2 separate regions of the Homo sapiens genome follow, and region 2 is linked to region 1. The links come from fine-mapping of genetic effects on gene expression. Tissue or cell type: whole blood. Region 1 holds a variant in brackets; the other region holds the start of a gene. All regions are shown on one strand. Distances are from middle to middle.

Region 1 (2,917 bases):
GGGGTCAGGAGATGAAGGTTGGGGGCATGATGCTTGTTTTATGGTTAAAGTGAGGATTGCGGGAGGTGACTTAAGTTCTCTTCCCACATCAACATCCAAAGTTCTCTGATATTTCTGACCTTACCCAGTGAGCACGAAACTCTACTCACCCATTAGCACAGGCTGGCCAAATGACCCATCAACAGAGACTCAGTTCTCAGAGAGCTGTGGGAACACAGCTGAACTGCACAGGGCTGGTTCTGAGGACCTGTGATCCCTAATGGAGACCATACCTGGTGACCAGACCAGGAGAGTGACAATGCCAACCCTGGGAGGTGAGGAGTAGAGTGCCCTGTCCAGGGAGCTATGTTCGTAAAAGCCCGAAGTTCTGGGGTCTGACCCCTGAGATTCCACACAGTGTTGACTTGCAGAGACTGAGGGGCCAGTATGTCAGCTTTGTCCCCCTCTTGGTGCAAAATAACCAAGGAGGCAGGTTGTGCTGAGAGACATGGGCACTCAGCCCCCCTTTCTTCATGTTCCAATCCCTATCTCACCTTACCACAAACCATACTGTTCCCCTGAAAGCCCCTGGTTTCTGACCTATTCCTCAATATCATGGGGGAGCAAAGCGTGCCCAGGAGGGTCAGGACAGGAAGAAAAGGCCTCAAGAGTCAGGATCGCCTCCATCCCAAGGGCTTTGCACTTAGGTTTGGACAATGTCTCCTCATAGTTTCAGTTCTTCCTTTGCTTTGGCAATGCAGCATTTTTCTTAAACCAGTGTTACCTGCCATTTGTAGAAGTTTGTACCTCTTTATTATACAGTGTAGAGGTTTTTGTTCATGTGCCTCTCAGCATGTCCCCAGGAGGTCTGTGGTCTACAACTGATGTGAGCCCATTTCCCAGAACCTTCTCAAGATATGAAAGCAAGACTGTTTATTGTAAATTTACCTGTGAATGCAGCAACACTACTTCCTGTGGCTGCAACAGCCATTTTCTGTCTCACCTCCTCCATCTGTTATCTCAGCCTTCACATACAGTGTGGTTTCCACACAGGACAGAGTTAGAATTGGGGCCCATGTCCCCTCCCTACACATGGGATGTGCTCTGGATGGCTGGAAGGCCAGACTGGGATGAGGAGGAGTCTCTCCACGGACACCTTGCGGAATTGTGCTCAGGCCCCTCTGTAGACCCTCCCCAGGCTGGTGCTGACCCAAGGGTGACAGGAGAGTTATTCTCTGAGTCTGCAGACCCACACACGGCCTTATTCAGACAGACCCAACAATGACCATTTCTGACTTCCTCAGGAGTAGGCAAGATGACCACTTAGTTGAAGCAGGTGCCTCTGGCCTAACCTGCCATGCAGGAATCTGACAACTGAGTTCTGAAAGCCTAAACTGCTGACAGTTTTAGTTTTAGATTTGCTGCCTATTTGGAAGCAATGATAACCTACATTCTTTTTATTTTATTTCATTTTAAGTTTCAGGATACATGTACAGGACATGCAGGTTTTTCACATAGGTAAATGTGTGCCGTGGTGGTTTGCAGCACCTATCAGCCCATCACTTAGGTATTAAGCCCTGCATGCATTAGCTATTTATCCTGGTGTTCTCTCTCCCAC[T/C]GCCCAACCAACAGGCCCCAGTGTGTGTTGTTCCCCTCCTTGTGTCCATGTGTTCTCATTGTTCAGCTCCCATTTATAAATGAGAACATGCGGTGTTTGGTTTTCTGTTCCTGTGTTAGTTTGATGATGATAATGGCCTCCAGCTCCATCCATATTCCTGCAAAGGACATGAACTTGTTCCTTGTTATGCCTGCATGGTATTCCATGGTATATATGTGCCACATTTTCTTTATCCAGTCTATTACTGATGGGCATTTGGGTTGGTTCCAAGTCTTTGCTATTGTAAATAGTGCTGCAATAAACATATGTGTGCATGTGTCTTTATGGTAGAATGATTTATATGCCTCTGGGTATGTACCAAGTAATGAGATTTCTGGGTTGAATGGAAGTTCTGCTTTTAGAAAGTATCTGAATTTTGGTTTGTGTGAATTTACAATCTACATGCAATACTAACTAAATCAGATAGCTTTTACAGTTTCACATGTGGACATAGGTTCTCTCCCAGTCTCTTCCATACCCATTAGTTATTGAACTTTCTAAACTGGCATTGAAACAATGTCTCTGGCATACAACAATGTTTTGTTGCACCAGTTTTATAAACTTATGCAGTGCAATATGTGTTATTTTTCTGAAGCAAACCAAAGGTTCTTGCTGCCTTGTTTAGCAGCATTTTATTAAGGATCTTTTATACATTTGTAATAGATAAAAATAAACCAGATTGCAAATCCTTTTTAAAAATCTTAAACCATGTACCAAGTTTTTGATCCAAATTGTGTAGGATAAGTTAAACTTAAATTGCATTCTGTTAACCAATATGAGTGTATTTGTGTAAGCAAAGTTATGTTGAAACAAAGTTTTAACAAGCAAAAAAATATTCCTCTGCACAGACCTATTTACACTGTGAAAAAGATAGGGGTTTTTTCGTGTGTAAAGGATATGTAATAAATTTTATTTACTCAATTTTTCATGTGTTATTCTGCTAGGGAAAATAATTTTTCTGTGTAAAGGGTATGTAACAAAATTCACTTACTTAATAATTTTTTGTGTTTATTCTGCTGGGCTCTGCAAATCACATGTCCACAAGATAGTCATGAATCTCTGACCTCAAGCAAACTCTCAGTCTAATGGAAAGAATGTTTGGGATTAATACAGGACCTGTCCCCAGTGATTCTTTATTGGAGCTCATGAGCCATCATGGGGACCCAGGGACTGGCCCACAAGGAGCTGCAGACCAGCCTAAGAGAAAATAATAAATCCTTAGCTGGGGCACAAGGAACACCTTAATACCATTCATTGCACAAATAAAGGAGAGGAGAAAAT
Region 2 (2,917 bases), 22 kb before region 1:
GAGACACAGTTTCACTCTGTCACCCAGGCTGGAGTGCAGTGGTGCGATCTCGGCTCACTGCAACCTCCACATCCTGGGTTCAAGTGATTCTCCTGCCTCAGCCTCCCGAGTAGCTGGGATTATGGGTGTGCACCACCATGCCCATCTAATTTTTGTAGTTTTAGTAGAGACAGGGTTTCACCATGTTGGCCAGGCTGGTCTCAAACTCCTGACCTCAAATGATCCACCAGCCTCGGCCTCCCAAAGTTCTGGAATTAAAAGCGTGAGCCATCACACTAGGCCAAGATCCTTATATTTCTAAACAACCATGTTTCATTTGTCTACTCATAAGGGACAAGGTGGGTGGGAAAGGAATGACTTCCTACTTTACAGAGAACTGGAATCACTTGCTGAGGGGCTGAGAAGTGGGTTTCATTTGTAAGCCTCATGCCCAGCTCTCTCTCGCTTTCTTCCTCCCGTCCTCTCACAGATCAGCCCGGCTCCCTTCTGTTTTTGTTTTGCCTGCACACTCTTCGCTTCTGTCAGCTTTCTCTGTAGGTGTGCCTTCCCTTACACCTTAGGCTCAGTCCTCCCTTTCCCTCTCTTTCTTTTCCCACCTTGCCTCCTTCCCTCCTCTACTCTCTCCAAACCTCCTCCCTCATGTTGAGTCTTTGCTGAGAGACTCAGTGAATGAAGATTATGACTCTGGGAAACCGTGCAGTCCTTTAAGCTGGAAATACACTTCACTTGATCCATTAATGGCTTGAATTTTTCTCATTCCCCAACAGCCCCTGGTTATGAAGCCCTTGCAATGTAGGAACTACTATGGAGTGAGAAATATCGGTACGTTTTCATCAGCTAGTTTCTCTTGCTTAAATCTGGCAGGCATAGACCAAGCGTACAAGCACAGAAAACTGAAAGCCACCGATTAATGCCCAAATTCTTCCCAGTTAGCACTTTTTATTGACTTTATACTATGGAAATTCTTTCTTTGCCAGTAATGTGTAAAGTAAATTACATCGGTTTCCTGTAAACTGGCTCCACTTAAGGAAAAGGCAGTCACTCTAAATTGCTTCTCTTAAAATAGGACAAATTTGTTCTAAGAAAAATGAAAATGTTTGTGCATGGCTTGGGACCTAGAAATCAACACTGCAGAACTTTTCGTAAATCTGGGCTTACCTGATTTACTGTTCAAAGAAACAGTTGGCTCCCTGTTCAGTCCTGTTGTCTTATAGCTCAGCTCCAAGAGAAAAAGAAAGTAAAACCGAGACTCCAGTCGGTCTTCTTCCTCTCTTGAATCTTCCTGAGCTTCCTGACTGCTAATGAACGCCACCACGTGCCTGTGTTTGAAATTCTCTTTCATGCCATTATGCAAAATAAACAGTTTAAATGGAAAGTTAATCAGTAGTTATTTGCTGTCATGTGGGCCAACTGTCTCTTCTTCTCAAAAGTGAAAAAAGAGTGTTTTAATGATTTCATCTGGACTGGAAAGAAAGGCATGAATGCCAAGGAAGTTGGTGGATTTCAGTCCTTCCCAGCTGGGATATGTCCCAACAGTTAGAAGTTTGTCTAGATGCAAATGGCCCCCTGAGAAGGGCTTAAACCTCATTGACACCAGCAGCAGGGATTGTTCTAAAGCAGATGCCACTGGGAGAGAAGAGGAGCCTCTGATAGGCACTGCCCAGGGGAAGAAGGGCACAGAAAGGGGAACCTGAGAGGGGACATTTTTGTCTGAGTCTGATTGTAAGGATCATTAACCATCAAAACATTTTTACATAACTCATTCATGGCTTCTAGGATTCTGGGCCTTTCTTCCCTGTCCAGCTCTGTAATTTCAGAGAACCTCCCTGTGGGGAGAAATTGTCTAGGAAATGTCTATAGTAATACTCTGGAGTGTTGGCTGGGTCAAATGGTATTTCTAGTTCAAGATGCCTGAGGAATCGCCACACTGACTTCCACAATGGTTGAACTAGTTTACGGTCCCACCAACAGTGTAAAAGTGTTCTTATTTCTCCACATCCTAGCATTTAAAACATTTCCTTTTGATTGTCTTGGAGTTTCCAGGTTTATCATAGACTCAGTTGCAAATAGTGATAATTTTCCCTCCTTGTTTCCAAAAATATCTTATGTTGCTTTCTCTTGTATAATTACAATTGCTTGCTACCTTTTCAAAAGTGAGTTAATGTGCTTTTATTATTTATTTACCTGTAGGGCACCTAATATCTTATCATTAATATTGATGTTGGTTATTGGAAATTAATTAGTTTATTTTAAAATCAGTGTGGCTATACTTTGCTTAGTCCTATTTCATTAAAGTCTTTTATCTGTGGTATAAATTTAGAAAATTTTATTTTGACGTTGACTGATATAATTCCATGTCTTTTTCCTTTTGACCTACTAATATTGCAAATTACATCACTGCGTTTCCTAACATAAGTGATATGTACATGTACATGTGCAAAGGTTTGGGTTCCTAGGAATACAGACTGTTGAGATGAAGATAAAATGGATGAAGGAAGTTTATTAGGGAATCTTCTCAGGAAATGTGCTAGAGGGAGAAGGGAAGAACCCAGGATTAGGCAGGGAGAAGTGAGACTGAGATGTAGTCACAACAAATATAGACTCTACAGGGAGTTCTAAAGTTTGGTTGGACTTTCAGAATGAAGGAGAGTGAGCAGAACTTTATAATCCCCATCGGATGCAAACTTCCTCTGGAAAAGACACTTGACTTACATAGGGCATCTCTCTTCAGCATAAGCTAATTTCTGGACAGGTCTGACGGCTCAACAGCTGAGAGCTAACAACTGGTCTCACTCCCAGCAACTGGAGATAGGTCCTTCTGTTTTTGCACTGTTCCTCTAGGTTTGGAGATGCAAATATTGCTTCTCCTGCTTCATCTTTTAGATCATCTGTAGAGACTTCCAAGCACAGTTTTAAA

The links. PIP is the estimated chance that this variant, and not a neighbour inherited with it, causes the effect.
Region 2: it holds the start of GIMAP2, and the variant in region 1 is fine-mapped to the expression of GIMAP2 in whole blood (TOPMed, PIP above 0.99).

What each region holds. Positions count from the first base shown.
Region 1 is chr7:150,662,074-150,664,990 of GRCh38, reverse strand. All of the region lies in intron 2 of LOC124901774 (a long non-coding RNA gene), which reads left to right. Among named protein-coding and RNA genes, the nearest start is that of GIMAP2, 22 kb to the left of the region's middle. RefSeq lists an enhancer at 687-906. The variant T/C (reference allele first, on the strand shown) is at 1,598.
Region 2 is chr7:150,684,027-150,686,943 of GRCh38, reverse strand. GIMAP2 (GTPase, IMAP family member 2) reads right to left here and starts at 1,238. Exons shown (of 3, transcript NM_015660.3): 1 at 1,159-1,238. LOC124901774 (a long non-coding RNA gene) reads left to right here. Exons shown (of 4, transcript XR_007060589.1): 2 at 768-822. RefSeq lists an enhancer at 1,164-1,363.